Homo sapiens: one gene and its partners. The protein of the gene in region 2 interacts with the protein of the main gene of each other region in a pairwise test. Each region holds a gene or a part of one and is shown on either strand. Other genes may lie near its edges.

What was found.
Region 1: the proteins of TFIP11 (region 2) and CT55 interact in binary tests that used the Homo sapiens proteins (3 or more experiments, as listed by UniProt).
Region 3: the proteins of TFIP11 (region 2) and THAP8 interact in binary tests that used the Homo sapiens proteins (3 or more experiments, as listed by UniProt).
Region 4: the proteins of TFIP11 (region 2) and CEP57L1 interact in binary tests that used the Homo sapiens proteins (3 or more experiments, as listed by UniProt).

Annotation. Positions count from the first base shown.
Region 1 is NC_000023.11:135,168,387-135,176,148, reverse strand, and holds the start of CT55 (cancer/testis antigen 55), read left to right. Parts: upstream 1-4,750; 5' UTR 4,751-4,977; coding exon 4,978-5,071; intron 5,072-6,370; coding exon 6,371-6,555; intron 6,556-7,762. UniProt on the Homo sapiens protein: Plays a role in spermatogenesis, possibly acting in the regulation of the autophagy pathway.
Region 2 is NC_000022.11:26,509,448-26,516,382, reverse strand, and holds the start of TFIP11 (tuftelin-interacting protein 11), read left to right. Parts: upstream 1-3,909; 5' UTR 3,910-3,950; coding exon of another isoform or gene 3,951-3,989; intron 3,990-4,207; coding exon of another isoform or gene 4,208-4,284; intron 4,285-5,065; exon of another isoform or gene 5,066-5,264; intron 5,265-5,680; 5' UTR 5,681-5,766; intron 5,767-6,101; 5' UTR 6,102-6,110; coding exon 6,111-6,319; intron 6,320-6,935. UniProt on the Homo sapiens protein: Involved in pre-mRNA splicing, specifically in spliceosome disassembly during late-stage splicing events. Intron turnover seems to proceed through reactions in two lariat-intron associated complexes termed Intron Large (IL) and Intron Small (IS).
Region 3 is NC_000019.10:36,044,270-36,051,295, forward strand, and holds part of THAP8 (THAP domain-containing protein 8), read right to left. Parts: intron 6,849-7,026; exon of another isoform or gene 6,556-6,848; intron 4,951-6,555; exon of another isoform or gene 4,877-4,950; intron 2,079-4,876; exon of another isoform or gene 1,440-2,078; intron 1-1,439.
Region 4 is NC_000006.12:109,091,653-109,098,530, forward strand, and holds the start of CEP57L1 (centrosomal protein CEP57L1), read left to right. Parts: upstream 1-3,854; 5' UTR 3,855-3,923; intron 3,924-6,878. Other genes in the region: SESN1 (sestrin-1), read right to left, coding at 2,143-2,421. UniProt on the Homo sapiens protein: Centrosomal protein which may be required for microtubule attachment to centrosomes.

The DNA of each region.
Region 1 (7,762 bases), on a different chromosome or scaffold from region 2:
TATTGTTATAGCCGACAAAGCTAAGACAACGGAGAGCTGACATTGACATTCTGTAACAAATAAAAGCAATCCAAACACTTATTGTGTTTTGAAAAACAAAGATATGAATTGGAAAAACTCCCATCACATGAGGAAACCAAAATTCCCATCGATGGGAATTGTCCCTATCCATTAAATCATAATGAATAATATACTTATTGATACATGTCATTTAAAGCCTTGTCACTCTATTCTTATAGAAATATTTGTCTAAACACTAGTCCAACACTTATTTCCAGTGTAGCTTTTGTAATGAAAGGAGTAACATTTTACTCCATGGTGCAACTCATGTGCACGAGGGAGGCTGGATCACTGATCTGCAAGAAAACTCAATTTATTGGCTGATTTTACTTACAAGTTGCTGCTGTGTCAGACCCTGAGGACAGGTTGCAAAGCCAGGAAACAGCTGAGTTGAGCTGGGATCTAACGTCTTCCGAACCACAGTTCTGACGTTTACAGCCAGCTGTAACATTATTCTGAATGAGGCCCAGTACTGTTTAGATAGATGCACAAAGGAAAGCAAAGTATTCAGATTTGGTGTGAATTGCCTTAGAACCAGATCCTTTCTCAGGTTGCTGGAATGGTTCAGGATGTTACCCTTTTCTGATTCAATTAATTGCTGTGGTATTTATTGAGAACCTACCGTGTGCCCAGCACTGTTCTAGATGCTGAAGGCCCAGCAGATGGAAAAAGCAACCACGAACAAAAGCTCTGCAGTCATGAAGCTGACATACAAGTGGGAAGAGACCGACAATAAATACTCTGATAAGCATATGAATAAGTAAGAATTTCCGTCTAGCAGTTAGTGACAGAAAGAAAAGTAAGCAGGTGTTTGTGATAAGAGGTTTTTGAGGGCAGTGACCACGGACAGATGGTTTTCAATATTTTCAGTCGGAGTCAGTTTCCCTGATTTGAGAGTGAAACATGCAGGTCACTAGAAGCCAAGAAGGCGAATCACATGGTTATATCTTTGCTGGAATCTGGCACTGAATGATTGCTTCATGGATACTTGTGAAGGTGTGCATTTTGTTCATGGGAGACAGTTAAAATGTGAGAAGGTTTAATGGGGTGCATGGCATCCTTGTTCAGAATTGCTGTTAATCTACTTTGTGTCCAGCCCTTGTATATGCCAAGCACTGGGCTAAGGGCCTTGGGACACACACGTCATTTAATGCTCACAAAGAATCCTATGAAAGAAGTCCCAGTAGCGTCGTGTCCATTCAACAGCCAAGTCAGGGACACAAACAGGAAAGAGGGGGCGCACAGCTGCTCTGTGGCCCAGTGGAATTCATCCCCTGGCATTCAGGTCCAGCAGCCATTTCTTATCTGATGTGTTCCGGGCCTCTGGAGGCACCTCCTACCACAAAGATCATTCACAGTGTTTCCAGCAGGTTGGTATAGAAGAGCCCCTTCTTTGTTCTGCAGTATTCTCTCAGCAGGGACCTGTCTTCCTGGTGCTGGAATCTACCTGTAGCTTCTCTGCCAACAGAGTTTGAACCCTGCAGAGGAGGCTGAGTCTGACTTAGTGAAGTTTGCCAGAGAAGGCTATTTCTTACCTCTTTCTAAGGCGATTTCTTAGCACCAATCTCTTGCTGCAGCATCCGTTATTAGCTCTATTTGTGCCAGCAGGGACACATGAAAGGGTTTTGGGCATGTTTTCATATGTCTGAGTGGCTGCTGTCTCTTCGGTTCTTTCTGCTTTCTTCTGTGCCATGATGGAAACTAAAACATTTGACCCAGTGATGTTTTTTTTCAATCATTCTTTAGAGGTGGTGAGACTACAGGTATGTTTTCAAAGGATTGATAGTTTTTGCTGATGGATGGCATGGAGTGTGTAAAGAAAATGGAGAAAACTAAGGGTTATGGCAGGGATATGATGTTAACCCACTGTGTGAACTGAGCTGACATCGTGTGAGATGGAGAAGATTTATGGAGGTGAAGGGGTTGAAGGAAGCTCAGGACATATGAAATTTTGGACACCTTACCCTTGAGTCGTCTATGGGATAATCACGTGTGTAACTCAGTATACATATGGAATTGGGAGTACGTGCACTTAGATGCCATGGGGCTGGTGTGTGGATAGAGAGGCCATTCAGGGTCTGAGTCCTGGAGCACTCTTGTGCAATCCTGATAGGAGGAACTTCTCACAAAAGAGGCTGAGAAGGAGTCTTTCTAGGAGAGAGTGGTCACACAGAAGACCAAAGAACTTATTTCAAGAAATGGGGAGTCCTCACCTGCGTCAAACACTGAGAGGTTGAGTGATGAGAGCTTAGCATATTGACCACTGGATTTGGAGACCTGGAGGTTTCCTGTCATCTTAAGAGCAAATTAGGGGCATGATGTGGGTAAAAGCCTAATGCCAGAGGAATAAGGAGAGAATGGGAGCTCAGGAAGTGAGCAGAGGTGATTCTTGAAATAGCATTTGCTGTGGGGGACAGGATGCAGAAGAATGGGACTGAAGGGGAAATGAGGCCAAGGAAGCTTATTTATCTATGTACATTTTTAAGATGGGAGTTATTTGTGAAGTTTTTAAGATGGGTGATTCTTGTGTATGTTTGTATGTTATTCCTTTGCAGGCAAAGATTAAAAAAAAAAAAGATTGTTGATGCAGGATGAAGAGAGGCAACAGCAATAGAAGCAACATCCTCAGAGAAAATGTGTCAAGAGAATGGTTCCATGTGCTCAGTGGAGTTTCAGCCCTGGCCAGGGGCTGCGATGTCCTTCCATTGTTACAAAAGAGAAGGAAGAGAAAGCCAGGATGGGTGCCAGGAGTTTCACAGAGGGGCTCCTGTTTCATGGCCTGTGTTTTCTCAGAGAAATAAGAGGAAATGTGTGCTTACCTGTGTGTCCTAATTTTTCATTGATAATCATAGAATATTGGAGTAATCAAAATTTACAAGAGCAGTTGCTGTGGGTTGAATTTTGCCCTGAAAGAGATATGCTCAGGTTCTGAGCTCCAGTACCTGTGAATGTGACTTTATTTTGAATAGGGTCTTTGCAAAAAAAAAAAAAAAAAAATCAAGTTAAGATGAGGTCCTACAGGATTGGGATTAGTCATATACCCTTAATCCAGTGAGTGGTGTCCTTATAAGAAGAGGTGTATTGGACACACAGACAGATGGAGAAGAGCACCATGATATGAAGGAGGAAGAGATTGGAGTGATGCATCTACAACCGAAGGAAGCCAACCGATGACTACTGGCAACCTACGGAATCTTGGAATAAACTCTCCCTCAGAGCTTGCCAGAAAGAACCAACCTCACGGAAACCTTGATTTCAGACTCATAGCCTGCAGAACTGCAGAAGAATAAATTTCTGTTGTTTAAAGCCACGCAGTCGTAGTAATGTGTTGTGGCCTCCCTAGGAAATTAACACAGTTGTGTTACATTTTGAGACATAGATAGCCCTCAACCGATCCTGTTAACCAGATGATAATCTTCAGCAATGCTCTTACCTGTTCTCACAGTAGGAGAGGAAAGACAAACAGGTTTCATCCACAGTGCCCATGGATTGCATCAGAATCATCCAAACTGTTCTCCTTGCTTCCTGCTCTGACCTCTTCCAGCCTGTTCACAACCAAGCACCTGGAGTGATCCCTGGAGGCTCCAAATCCTTCAGGGACTTTACGTGTCATGGACAATAAAAGCCAAAGGACTTCCAGTGCCCCACTATCCCACATGCAGCCTGAACCTCTATTATCTCTCTTACCATACTTCCCACTCTTCTAGCTATTCACTGCCTCTGCTCTAATCACTGCTTTTCTTTGAATACATCACGCACAGTCTTGCTGTATGGTCTTTGCACAAACTGTGCCCTCCGTCTGAACGGCTCCTCCAAAAATAGCTGCCTGGCTAACTCCAACATCTTTCTCAACTATTGCTTTCCAATGAGGGCTACTCTGACCATGCTATTGTAAAGTGCAATCCAATACCCCATGCCCAGCACTGTGGATCTCCCTTGTCCTGCTATATTTTTCCATGGCATTTATTGCCTTCTAACATACCATATATTTTATTATGTGATGTTTAGTGTCACCCTTTCGTCATCCTGTGAAAAATCTACCCTCACAGGGTGAAGATTCTTGACTCTTTCATTCATTAACAAATTTTAGGAACACAGAACAGTGTCTGGTTCACAGTTAGTGCCCTACAAGTTTTGCTGAATGAATGAATAAGGGTAATGTGTATATCAGAGTAATGTAAGCATAACCAGGTAAGCGATGAGTACATGGTAGCAATGATCATAAAAGGATTCTATTATAAATTATCACTGGACTAAAAATGGCAGTCCTAGTACACAAGACACGTACTTGCCATCACTAAAACATTGCCTACCCACATGATGCCCTCTCTCCACAAAATTGATCCCTGGTGAGGAGTAACTATTGACCGCCCACTGAGTGGTGACTCCTTATGCTAAGCACCACGAATACAAGGGCAGGAGCAGGATTTTTGGTTGCACAGCCGGTGTTTCAGGCACCCATCCTCCCAGGGAACCCAAGAGAAGAGCCCTGTATCTCCTTAGTAAATGCAGAACCCAAGCTCCCAAGCCATTTTCCCCAGGCCATCCTAATGGCTCCCTCAGCCTTGATGGGAGAAGCCACGATGTTCCCACCCATCGCCTTTTAGTAGCCACAAGAACCTGCCCGCCCACCCACTGCACGCCCATTGGTTGGACAGTGGTAGAGGCGGGCCCTGACGAGCGCATGCTCAGAGGGAGAAGTCAGCGGAGAAGCTGGGAGCTCCTTTGGAGGCTGCGGTGTCCCTGACTCTCCTGAGGGGGGCTCACTAACGGGTGGGTCCCATGCCACAGTGTCTGAGGAGAAGCAGGAAGTGAGTCCCTGAGGAGACGCCGTGACCTGAGGGCTTCCCTTACTGAGGAGGCCTCGTGCTTCATCTGCCACAAGCGGTGCCCAGGCCGGTGGTGACAACTGGGACGATGCTCAGGCTTCTGAGACTTGCTTTGGCCTTCTACGGGAGGACGGCCGACCCTGCAGAGCGACAGGGCCCACAGCAGCAGGGCCTCCCACAAGGTATTCCTCTGTGTGTCCCCTTGTCCCCCACCCCAGAAGCCTCCCAATAGGGGTTCTCCTCACCCCCGGAATGAGGCTGTTGTAACTCGGGTGGGTACTGCACGTGACGGTGGCTCCATCTTGTGCGTGCATGGGGAGGCAACCCGAGGCAACCCGAGTCCTCAACAATTCCCTGAGAACCAACCCCCAAACTCTCCTGTCCATCTAAAGCGGGAAGGTGTTGACAGAGAAGACCTTGGGGTCTGTACCGCCTGTGCTTTTCCCCCACGTGGTCGCACAGCACATGCCTATTTATATTTCCAGTAGGCGAGAAACTCCCTAATTTGCGAGTTAATTTAGGCTTGTATCCCAAACGGGAATGTAATTTGAAGCCAAGTTGATGCCTCATACTTATCTGATCCCAAAGGAAGGCAGAGAACCCCTGCCGGCGACTGCTGAGGTTTGATCCCTAAGTATTGCTGATCAGCTAGGCTTGTGCAGAATAAAAAAAAAAGAAGAAGAAGAAGAAGGAGAAATAAAGAAAACCATTCAGATGCCGTTTTGGGCTAGCCTTCAATCTCCAGATATCTTTTAGTACTTTGTCTGCTGAGATGGTTAAGTATCTATAGAAGGTGCTACTCATCATGTTGGTGATAATGATGAAGGAATATAATAGGAGCAGAAGCTTAAAGACTCATATGTAGAAATGCTAACAGGTAACATTTACACACTCTTGTGCAAGGCACTCAGAGCTCTCGACAGTTGATGTGCATGTGTCAGTTAATATTCGTAAGCTGGGCGCGGTGGCTCACACCTGTAATCCCAGCTCTTTGGGAGTTCCAGGTAGGTGGATCACTTGAGGCCAGGAGCTGGAGACCAGCCTGGGCAACATGGCAAAACCCCGTCTCTATTAACAATTCAAAAATTAGCTGGGTGTGACGGTACACACCTGTAGTCCCAGCTACTGGGGAGGCTGAGACATGAGAACCACCTGAACCCAGGAGGCAGAGGTTGCCGCTAGCCCAGATTGCGCCACTGCACTCCAGCCCCGGCGACAGAGCCAGACTCTGCTCAAAAAATTAAAAAATAATTAAAAATTAAAATTTTTAAATTTTAATAAATTTTTAAAAATATTTTAAAAACCTACAACAACCCTATTAGGCGAAATTGTGATTGTTGTGGATTGACAGATGAAAACAAGGTCAGAGACGTTATAAAACTTCTCTGCCCAGGGTTATGCAGATGGTGAGTGTAAGACTTACTTGTAGTAGGTGTTTGCATTTGAGGCTAATAATGTGACCTTGTTTCTTTATCTTGTAGGTGACACCCAGTTGACAACTGTGCAGGGAGTTGTCACAAGTTTCTGTGGTGATTATGGCATGATTGATGAGTCGATCTACTTCAGTAGTGATGTTGTGACTGGCAACGTGCCTCTAAAAGTTGGACAAAAAGTTAATGTGGTTGTGGAAGAAGATAAACCACATTATGGATTGAGAGCAATCAAGGTGAGATGTGCATGAGTTTGGGAATTGTGTCTTATCCCAGTGGGCTTTCTTTCTCCATCTTTCTTTTCTTGAGTTAATCCGACATCTCTGCTGTGATCCGTAGAGTGGATGTAGACTGCAATTTGAAGCCCCCCTCCTCTGAAGCTGTAGCTTCTTCTGTTGTAATATTTGTAGTAATTTGTGCTGTAAAACATAAAAGCTTACTTATCTATTATTCTAGTCTTTAAACAATATGAGTAACAATAATAATTATTGAACTCTTTATAATCTTACAACTTCCCTTATCAGGTAAAAAAACATTTTCTGTAGTGTGCATTCAAAACAGTGGAATTTCTATGTCAAGCCATGTGCATTGTAAATATTTTAAAAAGAGCTTCATGGAATTATAATTCACCAACCACAAAACTCTCTTAAGGGTACAATTCAATAACATTTGCAGATTTACGGAGTCCTGGCAACATCACCTGAGCCCAGATATTTGCCCATTCAGTGGCTATTATGAAATTATTCTTTAGCTCTATTGTACTAATTGATTCTCTCAGCAATAGGAGGTGAGACTGCCCATCTGCCCATATAGGCAAGGACAACAATACTATCGATCTGAAATCTTTGCACATATGAGAAAGGAAAAGCAGTCTCATCATTCATTTGGAATTATTAAGGGTCTTCATGAGATTACAGTAAGTTTTATTTCTTAGACCTACTGATACAATAGGGATATTTATGGCTATCTCTATGGTAGGAAAATTAGATTTGTAATAGGAAAGTTTGTGTATGAAGCCCTTGTAGTATTTCGTCTGATACCATCTTTTTCCTTTGCTTTATGTCTTTCATTCTTTTACAGCATTATTGAGATATAAGTCACGTGACTATACAATTGGCCCACTTAGAGGGAACAATCTAGTGGTTTTTAATTTGTTCACAGAGTTATGCAATCATCACCACAATCAACTTTAGAACATTTTCATTACTCAAAAGGAAGCTCTTCGTGCTCCCCCAACTGTCCCCTCCCCCAACAACATCCAGCTCCAGGAAATCACTTATCCACTTTCTGTTTGTATATATTCTGGACAGTTAAAAAAGGTTCCTTCTATACAACTGTAATTATATGTTCTTTCACCAACATCTTCTCATTCCTCTGTCCACCCTAACAACACAAGCGTCTGGTAACCACCATTCTACTCTACACTGCTATGAGATCAACTTT
Region 2 (6,935 bases):
TTCTCCCCTTACTGTGTTTTGCGGATATTTAATTTCCAGATAAACACCCCGAGCCTAAGGAACCTCATGTTCCAGCTTTCCATATAAGGATAGAGTCTTCACGAATTCTTGAAAGATAAGTAGGGTAGAAACCATCTGTAAGAAACATTTAGAGGGAAATCAAATTGCTAATCTCAGCTGATCTGGGTTCTCAATTCTGCCAAGTTAAGGACACCATATATATTTTTGGGACAAAATGCAAAATAAGAATAAGCCATGTGCAACTGTATAATGTCACTGTCCTAGAAAAAGTACATGTGCTAGTCTTTAAATATATCAGCTTTGAAATGCCACTTATGGATTGTTTCTATGGTACCAACCTATTTAAAGTTGTAACTAAGTGACGATATTTTTTTCCCGAAATCTTTTGTAGGCAATATGGAAAGTGTGCTGTATGGCATAGGCTGTAGAAATAAGAGGTTAGGAATGTGGACTCTGGGGTTATAACAAACTACCTTAGAAGGCTGAAGAATCAAAGAGATGATGTCTGCAGAGTTTGGCTCTGTGGCCCTGAACACACAGGAATCATGATGTGGGACCCCATGCATGGTTTTGCAAAGAAAGCACCTGCCTGGGAGTTTGAGCTCCTGGGTTTCAGGCCTGGCCCTGTCCTTAAACTCACTGTGTGGTGCTGGCACCTCCACTCTGCCAGGGGCTCCCCCACCGCCTCAGCTGCGAAAAGAGAGGTATAGACCCATGAGTGCTGGAGGGCCCTGCCAGACTCCTTCTGCCCAAGGAGCCTTGTTGCTTTGGCAACCCCTTCTGCGAAGGCCACATGTCTGAGCACCTCATTGGGAATGTAGAAATGAGTGTGGATGTTCCCAAATCTCAAAGCAATGTTTTTGTTTTTTTTTTTCCCCTCTAGGAAATGACAGGAGATCACGATAGATATGAGACCTTGAACCTAAAGCTCTGGTTGCCTTGTAAAACTTTTCCTTGTTTTTCAAAGGCTGGGCATTTGATCCCAGAAATCCTGAAAAACCATGGATTTTTGAGACTGAAAGGGGTATGACATTGGGTTTTTAAAAATGAAGGCTGGCGCAGTGGCTCACGCCTGTAATCCCAGCACTTTGGGAGGCCAAGGCAGGTGGATCACGAGGTCAGGAGTTCGAAACCAGCTTGGCCAACATGTTGAAACCCCATCTCTAATAAAAATACAAAAAGTAGCCAGGCGTGGTGGCGCACACCTGTAATCCCAGCTACTCAGGAGGCTGAGACAGGAGAATTGCTTGAACCCAGGAAGCATATGTTGCAGTGAGCTGAGATCGTGCCACTGCACTCCAGCCTGGGTGACACAGTGAGACTCTGTCTGGGGGAAAAAAAAATTAAAACAAATAAAAAAACAAAAATTAGCTGGGCGTGGCGGCGTAACGCCAGCTACTCGAGAGGCTGAGGCATGAGAATCACTACAGCTGCGCCTGTAATGACAGCTACTCGGGAGGCTGAGGCATGAGAATCACTTGAATCTGGGAGGTAGAGGTTGCAAATGAGCGAAGATTGTGCTGCTGCACTCTAGCCTGGGCGACAGAGTGAGACTCTGTCTCAATAAATAAATAAATAAATAAATAAGAATATAGCCACAATCCTTTAGAAAGCTCTTACCATGCCAGGAGCTTTACATGCACTAATTATCACTTTCTGTTTTTGTTTTTCTCTAAACAACTCTCTTAGATCAGTACTGTCACTATCCCCAATCTACAGATGGAAAAATTGAGGTGTAGAGAGGTGAAGCAACCTGCCCTCGGGCCCATACCTAAGAAGTAGCAAAGTCGAGATTTGGATCCTTGAAGTTTTTACTCCAGAGCTTTCATTTTAAGAAATTGCAAAAAAGTTATTAAGTACAGAGAGAAACATTTTCCCTGTAATAATTTGAAATTAAGGTGACCATTTGATGCCTTATCCCCTGCCAAATACATTGATTTACTTTCCAGCAAACAAGAACATCCTCTGATGTAACTTAACAGGCAACCATGAAAATCAGGAAATTAACACGGACACATCATTACCACGGCATTGTAGGCCCCATTTAAACTTTTCCAACTGTCCCTGTAACTTCCTTTCAAGCAAAAAGATCCAGTTCAGAATCATGTGTTGTGTTTAGTTGTCATGCCTCTTTGGTCCCCTCCAGTTTGGAACAGTTCCAGGGTCTATCTTTGATTTTCATGACCTTGGCACTTTCTAAGATTACAGTTTTGTATACAGCATGTCTCTTTACGTGGGTTTGTCTGATATATCCTCATGATTACATCCAGGTTATGGATCTTCAGCAGGAATATCACAGGGGTGATGTTGCAATCTTCTCAGGGCATCCTATCAAGTGCCACATAACTTCACTTTGTCCCATTCCTGACAATGCAGACTCTGATCACTAAATCAGAGCCTGCACTCTTAACTACTCCATGACAGTCCACAAAGGTCCCTTCTTCAGAAGCCACAAAGTGAGTTCCATTTGGTGAAGTAAATCCACTAGCATCAGTCCCTCATGATCAAAGTAATTGCAGCTCCATAAAATCTGCTGTAAAGCCATAAACATAGCTACAGAAAAGCCAAGCGTATGTATGCTTTTGGCTTTTGGGCTACAAACAGATGTAAATACATTCAGGCACAGACTAAAAACACTTTTCTCCTCTGTTTCCCTTACTCTGCTCCTGGCAGGGCTTGTAGTCTGTTAGACCCTCTCTCCCGGCCTTCAATGCTAAAACCACATTTTCCATTTCTTTCCTGAGTACATACTATGTGTCAGGCACAATGATTCTACATGTCACTAAGAATACAGAGATCATTAAGACACAGTCATCATTCCTAAGCAGCCCACATTTAACTGGGTACACAAAAATTGTTGTTTAATTCTTAACAACTACTTGATGGTAGACTTAAGTATTTGACTCCAAGTCCCGTGCTCTTTTTACATTCCAACAATTGCCTCTTGAATCTTTTCATCACATAGAGCAGAGAGAGAAAAATTAAGCAAAAATTAATAGCTAACACTTCTTCAGCACCTACTGTTACCAGGTACGGTTTTCATTGCCTACAGTTTTATCTTATTGAATCCTTAACCATTTTGCAGAAGAGAAAACAGGCTTAGATGTAATGACTTGCCCAAGGTCCACAGCTGCTAAATTGCACTCAAGGTTGGAACTCCAGAGCCTGTGGACACTTAAATGTCTACAAGGAGTCCTTGGGCTAGTGAGGGCTTCCCAGGGAGGGCCCATGACTGTTCTGCTCATTGTATCACATTGGCCTAGCACAGGTGAGGGGCACTTAGTATATTTTAATTAGATCAATGAATAAATTAATGAATTTACCAACCTGCTGGAAACGAAAAGAATGGAAACAGCTCCTGGAGAGAATACTTGGGAACTCCAGAGTTTGCCCATTCATTCCTTCATTCCCTCTTAAACTCCTGCATAAAGGCCACTGCCCTGTGCCCACGACGGTGCTTATACCGAGAGCGTCAAAGATACAGGAATCACAGTCTTGACCTTCATTATTCCCATTTGAATGCTGTGTCCCAGGCCCCTTATTGTCTCACAGTATTTACCACAACTACCGTATGGGCTAATCCTACATCTCTATTTTACAGATTTACAATCTCAGAGTGGTAAAGTCTCCTTAGGCCAAGGTGGCTCAGCGGATTCCACACCAGTCATCACAGGCTGAGCGTCACAGTACAAAGCAGGAGCGGCAGGGAGGCCGATTCCGCGGGGAAACCACTCCCCAGCTATTCTAGGCCTTGCAAATCCACCCCTCCTATCTAAGATCCCAGCCGGCCGCTCTGCAGCCATATCCGCCGTAGCGTCCCACGCTGCCCTGGCAGCCAGCAGGACATCCGCTGTCGACTAACGTCATTTCCGGCGCGCCGGCCACGGTGCTTCCGGGTTCTGGTGTAGGAGCGGCGTCTTCTCGCGCGGATGGTGAAGCTGAATTTGGTACGCTGGACCCTCGGACAGGTGAGCACGGCTGGCCACAAGGGGACTCAGCGCCAGTGAGAGTAGGGACGAAGGCTCAGGGAAGGCGAGCTTCGGTCCAAGCCGTTGGGGTGTGGGGAGGGGAATCCATTTCGTAGACAGCTCTGCCGAGGCACGGAGAGGGGCGGTGCTGCTTGGGGTCAACTGGGATTTAGGGCTTGGATTCATTTAAGAACCTGAGCTTCCTTCACCAAACCTAGACAGCAAGAGAGAGACAAGCCCGAGGCCTGACTTCTAGCACTCCTGAGTTTGAGCCCTATGAGCAGTGGAACCTAGGGTAAGTTACTAACTTCTCTGAACCTCCTTTTTCTTATCTGAAGCATGAAAACTAACGGTACCTACCTTGCAGAAGTGTCTTGATGCAGACAGTTGATAATCGGTCTCAAGCGACCAGCATGTACCTAGCATCTACTGATAAAGGCTTCATAACTTGTGACTACTCGGGGCTTATTACCATTTACTATGCCCACGCAGGCAGTGGTATTATTTAACTTTATGTATTTGAGATTCCCCGTCTTTTCTGAAAATCCTTCTGTCCTAAACACTCCTGGAAGAGGTTGGGACCCGTTGCACCCAACCGGTGCACCAGTGAGTAGAAGAAGGCAGAGATAACGTTTTGCCAGAGGTGACCAGAGTTTGACACTGCCTGTGGAAGTAGTGAACTCCGTGTGCCTTAAGGCCGCTTTCAGCAAGACAAGAATCACAATTGCTGTCACCTATGGAGTGTATTATTGTGTAGTGCACCATGCTTGGCGCTTCACGTGCATATTTAATTCTCATACACTGGGTATCTGATAGAGTTGAATTTGAACTCAGGCTTCGATTTTAGCCTGCCTGATTTTACAGTCACTTTGCTAAGTTTACTCCCTAGTCCCATAATAATAATGATGATTGTGATGGTAAATACTGAGTGTCAACTTGATTGGATTGAAGGATACGAAGTATTGATCCTGGGTGTGACTATGTGGGTGTTGCCAAAGGAGATTAACATTTGAGTCTGTGGGTGGGGAAAGGCAGACCCACCCTCAATTCAATCTGTGTGGGCATAATCTAATCAGCTGCCAGCACGGCAAGAATATAAGCAGGCAGAAAAATGTGAAAAGAGAGACTGGCCTAGCCTCCCAGCCTATATCTTTCTCCTGTGCTGGATGCTTCCTGCCCTCGAACATTGGACTTCAAGTTCTTCAGCTTTGGAACTTGACTGGCTCTCCTTGCTCCTCAGCCTGCAGACAGCCTATTGTGGGACCTTTTGATCGTGTGAGTTAATAGTTAATAAGCTCCCCTTTATATATGTATGTCTATTCCATTAGTTATGTCGCTCTAGAGAACCCTGACTAATACAATGATTAACCTAATCATGGGACTAAAGTAGAAGCTATCGTTTCTTGAGCACTTATTTTGAACTCATTGAATTTGCTTTGTAAGCCTTCTCTAAGGTTGGTATGGTAGTTAATCCCAATTTAAGAAAGACAACTGAATCTGGTCACCCAGCTACTGTGAGGTAGATTCTCTATATCAATCTCTGGACATCTGACTATTAAAATAGTGTTCATAATTACTACAGTCTTTCAGTTCATCAGAAGAAATTCATGTTTTGTGAGGAAAACTGAAAATTTTGTTTCATCAAGTAATGTATTTCAAAAAGCATATTCTAAAAAAAATCACTCTCCTAGGACCACCAAGGATCCAGATATAATTCTTTCCTCAGTAATAGAAAAAAGAATCTGGGATCTAAGAAGATACCTACTCATTTTCTAAGGTAATAATGTACAAAATAACCTACTTAGTTATTTTTGTGTGGTTTGTGTATGTGTGAATATGTGTGATATTTATGATATTGACTAGGACAAGGAGATATGTACTTTTAAAGAATCATAGACTGTTAGGAGTAGTATTTTGTTCACCTGTTTTAGTACTGATTGTTATCTAAAAGTAGGTTTTTAATATCTTTTTTATTGAATAGTAATGCTGACTTTAATGGACTTTGAATTTGGAGAAAGTTCTGAAAGCAGCAAGGAATAGAGACTCACAAGGAATCCTTCGACTGCTGCCCCCAGGACTTACGGCCTGTGCTCTTTTTGTCTCTTCCTTTAGTGACTGGCCATGTCATTGTCCCACTTATACCGGGATGGGGAAGGCCGCATTGATGATGATGATGACGAGCGGGAGAACTTTGAGATCACTGACTGGGATCTCCAGAATGAGTTCAACCCCAACCGACAGCGCCACTGGCAGACCAAGGAAGAAGCCACCTACGGGGTGTGGGCAGAGCGAGACTCGGATGATGAGAGGCCCAGCTTTGGAGGCAAACGGTATTGCCTGGCATGGGGGCTGCTTCACCTTGCTTTAGGGAAGAGGGGGAAGATGGACAGGGAGTGGAGGAGATACCCTGATAAGTATACTTCTCACCTGGCCTTGTTGAGACTGTTAGCTGTGACATCATCTCGAGAGGTCTGGTTTCCTCTTTAGGCTAGAGTGCTGCTCTTTCACTGATTTATTCTATTTATTATTATTTTTTTTGAGACACGGTTTCACTTTGTTGCCCAGGTTGGAGTGCAGTGACGTGCTCTTGGCTAGCTGCAACCTCCACCTTCCAGGTTTAAGTGATTCCCGTGCCTCAGCCTCCCGAGTAGGTGGGATTACAAGCAAACGCCACCACCTCCAGCTAATGTTTGTATTATTAGTAGAGACGGGGTTTTGCCATGTTGGCCAGGCTGGTCTTGAACTCCTGACCTCAAGTGATCCACCCACCTCAGCCTCCCAAAGTGCTGGGATTACAGGCGTGAGCCACCACGCCTGGCCTCACTGATTTAATTATCAGTGTTTATTGAGCGATTGCTATGTATTAGGCCTGTGCTATAGACCCATTCTTGCCTTCCTAGAGCCCAGACATTAGAAGATGGAAATAGGCATTAACAACTCAGACGA
Region 3 (7,026 bases), on a different chromosome or scaffold from region 2:
CTTCACAATGTTTTCCATATCTGTGATATTACTTATTTCATATTTTTCTTAAAACTAACCAATTTTAACTATTAAACAAAGATACTTAAAAGAGAAACTTTACATCACAATTGAAAATGGAAAATCAGTATCAATTCCATAAACAAAAGCTAACCATAAAAACATCAGATGCCATTACCTACTGAGGGTTATGAGCCTGAGGCCTGCTCTCTTTCTTTTCTTTTCTTTCTTTTTTTTTGAGACACGGTCTCATTCTGTTGCCCAGGCTAAAGTGCAGAGGCACGATCATGGCTCACTGTAGCCCTGAACTGCTAGGCCCAAGTGATCCTCCCACCTCAGCCTCCCGAGTACCTGGGACCACAGGCATGTGCCACCACACCTGGCTAATTTAAAATTTCTTTTTGTAGAGACAGAGGTCTCACTATGTTGTCCAGACTGGTCTTGAACTCCTGGGCTGAAGTGATCTCCCACGTTGGCCTCCCAAAGTGCTGCGATTATAGGCATGAGGCACCACACCCCACCCCTGCTCTCTCTTTGTTGAAAAGATAGACTAGTGAGTGCTAGAGAATTAGGGACAAAATTCCTACAGGAGAGAGGGTAAACATAGGCACATCCACACAAAAGAATACGATGCAGCTATAAAACAGAATGTAGAGGTACTCTGTGAACTGACATGCTATTGTCAGGCACACATTATGTGAAAAAAAGCAAGGTTCTAAATAGACTATCTCAGCTTTTAGTCATTGTGGTAGCCCCCAAAAGCTATCCATGTCCTAATTCCTGGAAACTGTGACTATTACTTTATTTATTTATTTATTTATTTAATTTATTTTTTTGAGATGGAGTCTCGCTCTGTCACCCAGGCTGGAGTGCAGCGGCGCAATCTCGGCTCACTGCAAGCTCCGCCTGCCAGGTTCACACCATTCTCCTGCCTCAGCCTCCCGAGTAGCTGGGACTACAGGCGCCCGCCACCACGTCCGGCTAATTTTTTTGTATATTTATTTATTTATTTATTTAGAGACAGGGTTTTGCTCTGTCACCCAGGTTGGAGTGCTGTGGTGTGATCTCGGCTCCCTGCAGCATCAAACTCCCCAAGCTCAGGCAATCCTCCCACGTCAGCCTCCCAAGTAGCTGGGACTACAGGCATGTGCCACATGCCCAGCTAATTTTTATATTTCTTGTAGAGATGGGGTTTTGCCTTGTTGCCCAGGCTGGTCTCAAACTCCTGGGCTCAAGCAATCCTCCCACCTCGGCCTCCCAATGTGCTGAAATTACAGGCGTGAACCACTGTGCCAGGCCTGAATATTACCTTATATGACAAAAGATGTGATTAAGTTAAGGATCTTGAGATGGGGAGATTATCCTGGGTCATCCGGGTTGGCCCTAAATGCCACTACAAGTATCCTTTTAATAAGAGGGAGGAGAATATATTACCACAGAAAAGAAGAGAGGGCAATGCAACCATGGAGGCAGAGACTGGAGAGATGTGGCCACAAGCCAAGCACTGCCTGCAGCCACCAGGAACCGGAACAGGCAAAGAAGAGATTCTCCCCCAGAACCTCCAGAGGAGTACAGCCCTGCCGACACCTTGGTTTTGGCCCAGGAAAGCCGATTTGGACTCCTGGCCTCTAGAACTGTTAGAAAATAATTTGTCTTGTTTTAAGCCACCAAGTTTGTTAGAGCAGCATGGGAAACTAATAGTGTAATAAAGGGAGAAATAAGAATGTCTTTCACATTTGCTGGTATTTATATAAAGAAACTATGGTAATGTGGTTTGGCTCTGTGTCCCCACCCAAATCTCATCTTGAACTGTAATCCCCATGTGTCAAGGGAGGGACATGATGGGAGGTGACTGGATCATGGGGGATGTTTCCCCCATGCTGTTCCCATGATAGTGAGTGAGTTCTCATGAGATCTGATGGTTTAAAAGTGGCAGTTCCCCTCTTGCTCTCTCTCTCTCCTGCCCCCATGTAAGATGTTTGCTTTCCCTTCGCCTTGCACCATGATTGTAAGTTTCCTGAGGCCTCCCCAGCCATTCAGAATTGTAAGTCCATTAAACCTCTTTCCTTTATGAATTACTCAGTCTCAGGTAGTTGTTTATAGTAGTGTGAGAACAGACTAAGACACATAGGAAGGACACACAAGAAACTAAAGAGGCTACCAGTGGGGAGGAGGTGGATGGGATGAACGGAGATGGGGAGAGCCAAGACTTCTCAGACAAAGGAAGATGGAGGTGGAGGGGGCAGGTAGCTGGTGAAAGAGCACAGAAAGGCTGACTCAGAGAACAGCAGTGGCACCCAGAGAGCAGAACCCCAGGGCACACAGCCAGGGAGTCTGGCTGCTGCAGTCAGCCTCCCTCTAAGATCCCAATGTTCTCAGCAGCCCCATTCTTCCGGGACACAAACACAAGATCTATTGCAACAGCATTCCCCATTCTTATTGCCACCATCTCCCAGGCAGAATCTGCCAATGGACTACTCGTATCTACTCTCTGCCTTTTCCTTACTAACAGAACTCCAACTTTCTTTGAGGCCACAATGTGTCCTGCTAAAAGACTATGTTTCCCAGGATCCTTTGCAGCTGGCTGGGGCGTGTGACTACCTTCTGGCCAAGGAATGCTTTAGTGTTGTGTGGGATCTCTGGGATGGTGCCTTAAATGGAAGGGACGATCAACAGGATTCAGCAGCTCAAAGAGCAAAGGAAAAAAGTCAATATCCTAAGAAAGGTCTCCTTAATTGGTCTTACTCTCTCTTGTTCCTCTGGATAGCAGCATTTGTAATGGGCAATGTTGCTTTCTAAAAAACTACCTTAAGCAGACAACAAGTGTTCCCCTTTGTATGCAGTCAAATGCTCTACCACTGAGCTATACCCCCATGTTCCCCTTTGTATAAACTATTTTAGTCTTGCTGGTCATCTTGTCCAGAGCATGGGGTGGCATATACTGCTAGAAGTCCTTTTTTTCTTTCTTACTAATGTAACTCAAAATTTCTTCAGGCTGATTAAATGCCCAGTTTTTAAAGACCACAATTCCCAGCCTCTTTTCCAGTTGGGGTGACCAATGATGAAAAGGTGCCATTGAACGGGGTTTCTGGGAAGGCCTTATAAAGGGAGATGATTCAGTTTAGACCTGAACGCTTTTTGCTCTTCCTCCCTTCCCTTTTCCTCCTATAAGGAATGGTGGCAGTGGTGGCTGGGGCACTGGCAGCCACCTTGGATGGAAGCCACAGGCCAAGGATGGAAGCCACAGGCTAAGGATGACAGAGCAGAAAGAGGCCGGGCATGGTGGCTCACACCTGTAATCCCAGCACTTTGGTGGCCAAGGTGGGAGGATCATTTAAGGCCAGGTGTTTGAGACTAGCCTGGCCAACATGGCAAAACCCTGTCTCTACTAAAAATACAAAAATTAGCTGGGTATGGTGACATGCGCCTGTAATTCTATAATTCCAGCTACTTGGGTGGCTGAGGCATGAGAATCCCTAGAACCCAGGAGGTGGAAGTTGCAGTGAGCTGAGACTGTGCCACTGCATTCCAGCTTGGGTGACAGAATGAGACTTTCAAAAAAAAAAAAAAAGAAAGAAAAATAGTGATAGGACCCCTCATTTCTCATGACTGTGGAGCTACTATCCCAGTGCTGGTTTGCCAACCTCTGTACTTTCTGTATATGAGGGAAAATAAACCCTGTAATAGAATGTCTGCTGTCTCTCTCCACATGAGGATTACACATGCCCACTCCATTGACTTGAGGCTTGCTATATACTTGCTCCAGCCAAAAGAATGCCAGTGAAAGTGACACAGGCCACTTCTAAATATGAAATTGACCAAGAGCCACTGGGTGATTCACTCCACTTTCTTTTTTCCTCCTCCTGCAAGACCAGCAATACTCCAAATAGGGATAGTTTATTCAGCCTGAGACCCCAATTAAGATACTGTAGAGTAGGACCACAAATGACCTGCAAAGGACATAGTGTGAGCAAGAAATACACCTTTGGGCCACGTGTGGTGATTCATGCCTGTAATCCCAGCACTTTGGGAGGCTAAAGCAGGAGGACTGATTGAGCCCAGGAGTTCCAGCCTGGGCAACATAGTGGGACTTCATTTCTTTTTTTTTTTTTTTAGACGAAGTTTCACCCTTGTTGCCTAGGCTGGAGTGCAGTGGCGCGATCTTGGCTGACTGCAACCTCCGCCTCCCAGGTTCAAGCGATTCTCCCATCTCAGCCTCCTGAGTAGCTGGGATTACAGGCGTGTGCCACCACGCCTGGCAATTTTTGTATTTTTAGTAGAAATGGGGCTTCACCATGTTGGCCAGGCTGGTCTCAAACTCCTGACCTCAGGTGATCCACTTGCCTCAACCTTCCAAAGTGCTGGGATTACAGGTGTGAGCCACCGCGCCCAGCCCAATGGGACTTCATTTCTACAAAAATTAGAAAAATTTGCCTGACAAGGTGGTGTCTGCCTATAGTCGCAGCTACTCAGGAGGTTGAGGCGGGAGGACTGCTTGAGCCCAGGAGTTTGAGGCTGCAGTGAACCATGATGGTGCTGCACTCTAGCCCAGGTGATAAAGACCCCTTCTTTAAAAAAAAAAAAAAACAAAAAAACAAAAAACACCTTTGTTGTAGTAAGCCACTGAGATTTGAGAAGTTTGTTTGTGCAGCATAACTTAACCACACTGATTCCTATAGACCCCATAATTTGTTTAAGCAACTCTTATTGCAGGACTTTGTTACTACCAAGCAGATACAATTCTAAGTGATAGGTCCCCCATAAGAGATGACCCCATTGCCACTGTCCCTGAAAGGGCCTAAGACAGAGCTAATGAAAGCTAGCCAGGCATGGTGGCACATGCCTGTAGTCCCAGCTACTCAGGAGGCTGAGATGGAGCTGGTCCGAGTGTTGTGGGTTATTGTTAAGCTGATTTAACATTGTCTCCCCACACAACCATGCTTGACTAGCATAAAAATAAAAAAGAAAAATGAAAAAAACAAAAAAAAAGGAGGCTGAGATGGGAGGACTGCTTGAGCCTGGGAGGCTGAAGCTGCATTGAGCCATGATCGCACCACAGTACTCCAGCCTGGGTGACAAAGCAAGATCATGTTTCAAAAAAAAAAAAGAGAGAGTGAACTAATGAGTGTTCCCATTGGCTGCCAAGCAGGATTTCAAGTTATTTCCTGGCAGCCACTTCCCTCAATGTGTCTCATCTTATCTCTCACCTGGCATCCATGCCCTCTCCTAAGCCTCTTTTGGAAACTGCTTCTCATCTAACTCTTAACTAAGTGGCTTCTGCAAGACTGACTCAGGGGTAGGCCCTGAGGTGGAAATGGGCTAGTCACTAGCGGGTGCCAATGAAGACATGAAGTGATTTTTATACAGTCATCTGGCTGCTATATACAGTCGTCATCATTTTCCTCCTTATTATACATACAAAGCACTTAGAACAGTGCCTGGCATAAGGTAAATACTAAGTAACTATTGTTGTTGTTATGAGAGAGGTAAGAGTGGAAACGGGCCAGGCACGGTTGCTCACGCCTGTAATCCCAGTACTTTGGGAGGCCAAGGTGGGTGGATCACCTGTGGTCAGGAGTTCAAGACCCACCTGGCCAACATGGTGAAACTCCATCTCTACTAAAAATACAAAGAATTGGCTGGGTGTGGTGGTGTGCACCTGTGGTCCCAGCTACTCAGGAGGCTGAGGTAGGAGAATCACTTGAACCTGGGAGGCAGAGGTTGCAGTGAGCCGAGATCATACCACTGCACTCCAGCCTGGGCGGCAGAGCAAGACCCTGTCTCAAAAAAAAAAAAAAAAAAAAGATGATGGCAGCCTGGACTACATGATGACAGTGGATGTGATGAGAAGTAGTCTGGGAATGTGTTTTCCTTATTTCTTATTTATTTATTTTGAGACAAGGTCTCACACGGTTGCCCAGGCTAGAGTACAGTGGCACAATCACAGCTCACTGCAGCCTCGGCTCCTGGGATCCAGTGATTCTCTCACCTCACTGTCTCATGTAGCTGGAACTACAGGTGTGTACCACCACGTCCAGCTAATTTTTTACATTTTGTAGAGATGGGGTTTTGCCACGTTGCCCAGGCTGGTCTCAAATTGCTGGGCTCAAGCGATCCTCCTGCCTCGACTTCCCAAAGTGCTGGGATTACAGGTGTGAGCCACCACGCCCAGCCTATCTTTCCTTATTTGTTAATGATTTATTTAGGAATTTCTCATTTGTGTTTATAACTGTCTTGTCAAGGTGTTAGAGATTTTGTTGTGGTTGTTGCAGGATGGAGAAATGTCTTGAGGGTAGAGCCAAAGGGTGGGTTAATGGACTAGCGGTGAATGAAAAGGAAGGATCATGGGTAACTCCCAGGTCACGTACTCAGTTCCTCAATGTTTGATCCCTCACCTATCCATGAGCTCTGTCATGGCAGAAACAAGATCTGTCAGGATTCTTTGTGTCCAGCAGGGGCTTACTTGCTTCTCCAAGAAATACTCAAAAAGTTGCTGAATTAATCAATGTTGCCAGAGTCATACACAGGCTTAAAGTCCCTTTGGCCCTACACCAGGGTCCCTCAAAGGATCCGTGACACATGGACTGCTGGCTTTCCTGGAGAGCCCATCTGAAAGGCATTCACCAAATCCACCCAACGAATCTTTACTAAGAACCTACTATGTGCCAGGCAATATTCTAGAGGTTGGAGACACAAACAGGAGGAAAGAAGAAAGACAAAGAAAGACAAAACCTCTGGCTTGATTGAACTGATATTCTAGTGGGGGAGATAATGAATGAATACATCGAAAACGCAATATGCAGACAGTGATGTGTTAAAGAGAAAAATAAAGCAGGAGACAGAGAGAATCGTGTGTGTGTTTGGGTGTCAGTTACAGTTTTCCATAGGGTGGTAGTCATAAAGGCAAGAACTTTGAAATCAGAGGGAATCACACAGGCAAAGTCCCCAGGGCAGCAACATGCCTGCCACACTACAGGAACATGAAGTAGGCCAGTGTCACTGGTGTGAAGGGCAGGAGGAAAGAGA
Region 4 (6,878 bases), on a different chromosome or scaffold from region 2:
TCAGGAAAGCTTTCCCTTACTATCTAAAATTAAATTTTATATTTGTTTACTTCTTTATGGTCTGTTTCCCTTTGGTATGATGTCAAAATTGTTACCACTGGTCCTCAGTTCTCAGAATGACATTCAGCAGGAGTTCAATAAACATTTGTTGCATAACTGCAAGCATAAATGAATGATGCTGGGGTGGAAACTCCCTAAACTGAAAACTTCATCTATTCAGACTACTGATGAAAAACAGAAAGAAAGTATAAATTTGTTCATCCACTGGATATTTATTTAGTAGCTTCCAGGTCCCAGCCAGTACTCTTAAGAACTCATAGCCTTCCTATGGGAGACAGACACAAAAGCATGTGCTTATAACACAATATAAGTAAATTGCCTTTTATAATTGTACAATAGATGCAGAGATGGAAAAAAAGAGTATAAGTCTATAGGGAACCTTCCCAGGAAATTCCTGAGTCCTTTTGCAGGATGAAAGAGTCTTGAAATATATATTGCATAGTCTATGTATTTCACTTATGAAAGGGAGAGGAGCATCTACTATATATACCAGAGTACTTTACATCTGATTTAATTCCCACAAGAGCTCTGTGTTGTTATTCCCATTTTACAGATGTGGAAATCCAAGCTAAGAAAGGTCAAGGAATTTGCCCAAGGTTACAGGCAAGGACATTAGTAAAGGAGTGGAATTTGAGCCCAACTCTGACTCCAGTACCCACTTATTTATCATTATATTGAAATCCTTTGATACTATGCTCCCCAGAGCCTGCTTACTTTTATTTTCAATATAACTCTTAACACGATTGGTTATCTGGTTTCCCATTCTAATATGAATTAAGCAGCAAAATGAAAGATCAGGAAGAGACCAAAGTCAAGTATCCTGACGGCAAAGGAAAGAACAGAAAAACTATAAAAATTACACACAAAAATACAAAAACTAATGGATCATATAGTCAGTCCTCCACCCTTTGCTGCACAACAATAGTTGATATGCATAATGATGACCCCATTATGGACAAAAATGGTTGTTACAGTCACTACAGTCTAGAAGATAGAGAAATAACTTTTTGTGTTTCAAAGGGTAAACTTCAGTTACCTAGTATATTAATTCCTCTCGGGTAACTCTGAATTGTAACAATTGTTTCCAAAGTGTTAGTGAGAAGAAATATCCCAAGATCTTAAATAGAGTCTTCATTTTGTGGATATTATTTTTCTGTTGCTTTAAACTAAATTCAAGCCAGTATATAAAAACTGTCACTTTTAACTTACATAGTTACCCAAGTACATTTTAAATTTTAAAAATCTCTCATACAGGACTTTGGACAACACACGTGGATTGAGAAATGTAAAGATTGACAAGCATATATAAGGTGTTGCTGAATATTGTCAATATCTAAAAACTTAAAAAAAAGTATTCTAAGACACCTTGTAATAAAACAGGATAAATTATGAACGAAATGGAGGAAAAACTATAATATTTTTAACCTGCTGCACTCGTATCTTAAATAGCTACACATGTGAAAAAGAAACAATTCAGGCAAACACAGAGAAAGCTAGTTGAGCAATTTGCCATAAAAGTGTTTCTATCAAATACCCCACCTGGGTCCACCTTTTCAACATGAAGATATTAGCTTCTTTTAAGATAGGTTTTTATTATTTTATATAATTCTCTTCTTGAAAAAAGAGAGGTTGCATTTAGAGAACACATCCTGGTTTGTTTTGTTTTTAAAAATAAGAGAAAATTGTTCCACCAATTATCTTGAACAGGCTGACTAGGAAACATTTAATATCCTTTATCATTTTAGAGGCTTTTAAATGTGAGCCTTTACACTCAGAACACTGTGACAATGTGAAAAAAAAACACTGGCTACATTTTCCAACAACATGTAAAAAGAAATATAAGGAAAAACAAGTATTTACTTGGAATTAACTGTAGTTTTCATATATTCTTCCAGGAGCAAAGCAGTTTCTGCCTAAAACTCTAGAAAAACACTACTTGTTTACTTACAGAACACTCTAAAGATGTAAACTCATAATAAAAGTTTACATAACAACCTAATAGAAACAAACACAACGTGAATAACGGCAAGTAAAATTTAACTGTAGTAGAGACATAGTTGTATTTAAAATGCTCTTCCTTACCTGGATGCTCTTCAGAATAAACTCACTTTTCTCTCTCACATCTTTGAAGGGACACCTCTTAGAAAGCATAAGCAGATGAGCAAGTAGCTTATTCAACCCATCCGAAGACTCGGTATTTGAAAGCCCGTCTGATGGACGATGAGGTGTTTCTTTCACCGAACGAAGATACTCGGTTTTCCTCAAAATGGTTTGCCTAATGTTTTCCAATGCTGTCTCCCTAGTAGTTGAATCTCTGCTGCAGAGTCCATCCCATCTCACTTCATTCTCTCCTTCAGCCATGACAATAGTTTTTCCTTTGCGGTCTTCAGTTACCTTTCAGCATGCCCCAAAAAAATTGCTTTGTATTTTTAAAATGAAAAATGTAAAAATAAAATCAGAGAAATCAAATCGTCATGAAAACACACATCTGGGTGACATTTGGAACCACTGGTGCCTTCAGCCGATCTACAAGCTAGGTCACCCTCTCACCCTCTCCTTGTACACGAAAGGGCAGTCTTCTTTCTGGAAAAACAAAGTTTGAAAGTTGCAACCTTGCAGCGCTGGCTTTGGTGGGCAGAGAATTTCGGGGAAGCGTTCTCCTCCGTCTCGCGGGGTCAGTGGATATCCTCACGTTGTGGAGCTGTCAAATCCGTGCTCTGCCCCAAAAGGCTGTTAACAGCTGAACGCCCTCCAGCCATTCGGGGCTTTTTTGTCTGTGCAGCCACCGGGTTCTCTCCGGCGTTCCCACCCCGCCCCTTCTCCGACACCAGTCCCCGCCCTCCGCAGCTCCTCCCAGCGCCTCAGCAGCCGGCCGGCGCCGGCAGGGAAGGCTCGCCGAACCCTGGCCCACTGGCCGCAGCGGCCGGAGGCTTGGGCGCTGTCGGAGGGCGGCAGTCTCGGGCAGCCGTAGTCTCGGCGGGCGGCGGTGAAAAAAAGCGTCCCCCAGCCCCGCCAATTCGGCACCCCCGGGAAGACGCTACTTCTCCGATCCCTGAGCCCTCGCCCACCACCGCCGAGCCAGAGGGCACAGGGCGGCCCTGGCAATCCTCGAGCGCCAGGCTGGGCCGCGGAGCTGGCGGGGCGGCGGGGCCCGAGGCGCAAAGCCCGCCCTTCGCCCAGCCCCATCGGTGGGGATCAGCCCAGAGGGCGGGAGCAGGGAGTGGAGACGGGGTCCTCACCCCCAGCCCCTCCCCTTTCTCCGCCCGGCACAAACCGGGAGCCGCCCCGGCCCCAGCGCCTTCTTCCCCGCCCAGGCAGACGCGACCCGCCGAGGCAAAGCCTTAGGAAAAAGCCCCGCCCTCTGGCAGGCTACCCTCCGGACCCCAAGTGCGCCGCGCGCGGCTGCCAGCCACTGCCGGCTGCTACGCATGCGTGACTGCGAACTGGGCCAAGCGCCCCCGGAGGCGCTAAGCTTGCGCCCTGAGGCGGTTTCCGTTCCCGGACGTTTGGACTCTGTCCTGGAGAAGGGGAAGGAAAAAGTAAGACGTAGAAGTACACTGAGACTTCGTCACACATAAAACAAGCACGACAAAGAAAGAGGGCGCGAAGGGACTCCTGGAAGAAATTGAGTCTACATTTAAGATCACCCTAAAAGTAGTGACGGCCTCTTCATTACTCCAAACCCCAGATTTAAGTCGGTAGGACGTCTTCGCGTTGACTTGTGGGGAATGTAGTTTCGATGCTGCCGGCGCGTTTTGTTTGCGACAGAAACTACAACCCCCAGGGGCCACCGCGACGTTGCCTGTGGGTGCCCGCGAACCAACGGTTAGCGGTGGCAGGGGCTGACTGAGAGCGTCTGCTTGGTAAGCACTGTAAGCTGGGTTGTCACCTTTCCTTGACAGGGTTTTTCCTTCCTCCATTTCCTCTGGGATTTTGGAGACAAAGCCATCTAGGGTGGCCTCCCTTAGTCCAAGGACTTTTTCCAGTGACTTGCGTGGGAAGGACTAGTCCAGCTGCCCAAGCGCGGGGTGTGGTGGGTGAGGCAAGGATTTGGGATCCTGATCCCAAGGGTCGCAGGGAGCGGCCTAAGTAAGGCCAAGAAGGAAGGATGCTGTGGAAACTGGAGCTTCGCGCTGCTGCCTCTGATTCCGCCCTTTTTTGTGGACACACGCGGGGTGGATTTGGGATCTCCGCGCATTTGCACCTTTGTTTGCCTTTGCTTAGGGATGTTCTGGGCTTTATTTGCTCAGTCAAATGAAATCCTAGGCAGGGCTTTGAAAGCAAGTTGTCAAATCCATCTCGTAAAAGAATCCCCAGTATTCCTAGATAGGAATTCTTGCAGGCTTTAAGGATACAGCAGGAAAAAGAAAGCAAAACCGTAAAAGTCTCCAAAACTTAGTCGACTTTTTCAAAAGATTCAGTCATTTGCTTAAAATTAGTTTGCTTTTAAAAAGTTATTATTTGAGAAAAGTCGAGGTTTGAACGGCCATCAGTGGACTGATAATCGGTGTAGATTTTAATTCTTTACATTGCAGAATTGCATTGCACTAAATTCTAAAAATTTCGTCTTGCTAGGCACTGAGTATACAACAATGAAAAAGACAGTCTTACTAGTTAGAGGAACTAGTTGTTAGACATACGGTTACAATAATACATGATATCACTGGGATGTCTAGAAGGAGATGACTTAGCCCAATCTTGGAAAGTCAGGGAAATCTTCATCCCAGGGGAAATGAAGACCAAAAGAACAGCATATGCTAAGGCCCAGAGTGAGAGATAGGGTACTTTCAGGAAACGTCAGTAAGCCAAATCATGCATACTTGGCGGTGTGGGGTGGGACGGGAAGGGTGCTTTTTGTGTATTGATGCACTTAGAAGCTACAAAGAGACAGGTATTGTGAATTCTTTACATCGTTTCTGTAAGTGAGCTATTTTTGAATAGATGCATAGTTCTGATGAATTGGTCTAATTTCAAAAGCCTTGTTACATTCTGACACTTCTAGTTTGAATCTGAATTTTAAAAAGGGAATAACTTATGAGTGTGATTGAAAAAGCAAAACAAAAACCATTCCGTTTTCATCTCCTTTTTGGGATCTTCATTCTCTATCCAGCCCATAAAGGGTCGGGTAGTTTCTTAAGGCTGGGTGCCTTTTTATGCCGTAGTTAAATATGATCTCATGTATACCCATGGCTTCACCAACACCTATGACTCTCAAATGAATAGCTCCATTCAGCTTCACCTCTCAGCTTTCACAATATCTCTTGGATATTTCTTCTTGGATATCTCAAAAGCATCTCAAACTCAACATACCTAAAACCAAATGCATAGTTATCTCTTATGAATCTAATTCTTTTTCAGTGTTCCTTATTTCAGCAAAGGACACTACTATCCATCTACTTGTGAAAATTTGAAAGCTAAACATTATTCTTTATTTCTTCTTGCCCTTCATACTTCTATGGCCAAATTATTATGAAGTTCTGCCAACCTTATCTCTCAAAATATCCTTCAAATATATTTTTCTCTCCACCTGTCTTCAAACTGCGATAATCTCTCAAGACCACTACAGTAGCAATTATTCACAATGACCCTCCTCCATTAGTTCTCCATTATATCTGCCAGAATGATTTTTTGAAACTGCAGATTTGATCAGATTTTCTCTTGGTTAAAACTATTCAGTGGTGTCCTACTACTGTTAAAGACAAAACTCCTTTATAAAGCCTGACATCATCTGGTACTCTTTCAGACTAACTTCATATATTGCCCTCCAGATCAGCCATACAGTCCATTTTTCAGTCATTGGTTCTCATATTCCATTTCACCCACGCGTTTACTCAACAAATCTCTGTTGAGTCCCTTTTATATAACAGGACATTGAAGATACAGCATTGACCACAATATATAAAAATTCCTACTGTCATAGAGCTTGCATTCTACTGAGGAGAGATAATAAATAAATATGTAAAACACTTAGTAAATGAAATGAAGACAAATGCAGTGGAGAATAAAACAACTGGGAAGGGGAATGGGGAGTGCCAGGATGTGAGGGGCAAGGTTCACTTTTAAATAAGGTTGTTAGAAAAGACATAATCCAGAAGGGGACAATTGAGATATGAAGTAGGGGAGGGAATAAACCATGTAGATGCCTGGGCAAATAACATTCTAATGAAGAGAATTAGTGCAAAGGCCTTGGGCAGAAGCCTGAGTGCGCATTTGAGAAATAGCAAGAAGGCTAGTGTGGCTGGAGCACAATGAGTACAAAGAGGAGAATAACATGAGGTCACAGAGAAAGGAAGTAATGGTAGGAGAACATGTAGGTGACTGAAAGGACTAACATTTTTAATTGGGTTGGGAAAGCATTGGAGAGTTTTGCGCAGATGAGGGCATGATCTGACTTTTAAAAAATGACTACTTTTCTCTCTCTCTCTTTCTCTCTCTCTCTCTCTCCCTCTGTCTCAACGGAGTTTTGCTCTTGTTGCCCAGGCTGGAGTGCAATAGCACAATCTTGGCTCACTGCAACCTCCACCTCCCAAGTTTAAGTGATTCTTCGTCCTCGGCCTCCCAAGTAGCTGGGATTACAGGCATGCACCACCATACCTGGCTAATTTTGTGTTTTTAGTAGAGACAGGGTTTCACCATGTTGGTCAGGCTGGTCTTGAATTCCTAACCTCAAGTGATCCACCCACCTCAGCCTTGCAAAGTGCTGGATTACAGGTGTGAGCCACCGTGCCCGGCCTCTTTCTTTTTTCCTGAGACAGAATCTGACTATGTCACCCAGGCTGGAGTATAGTCATAGCTCACTGCATCCTTGAACTCCTGGG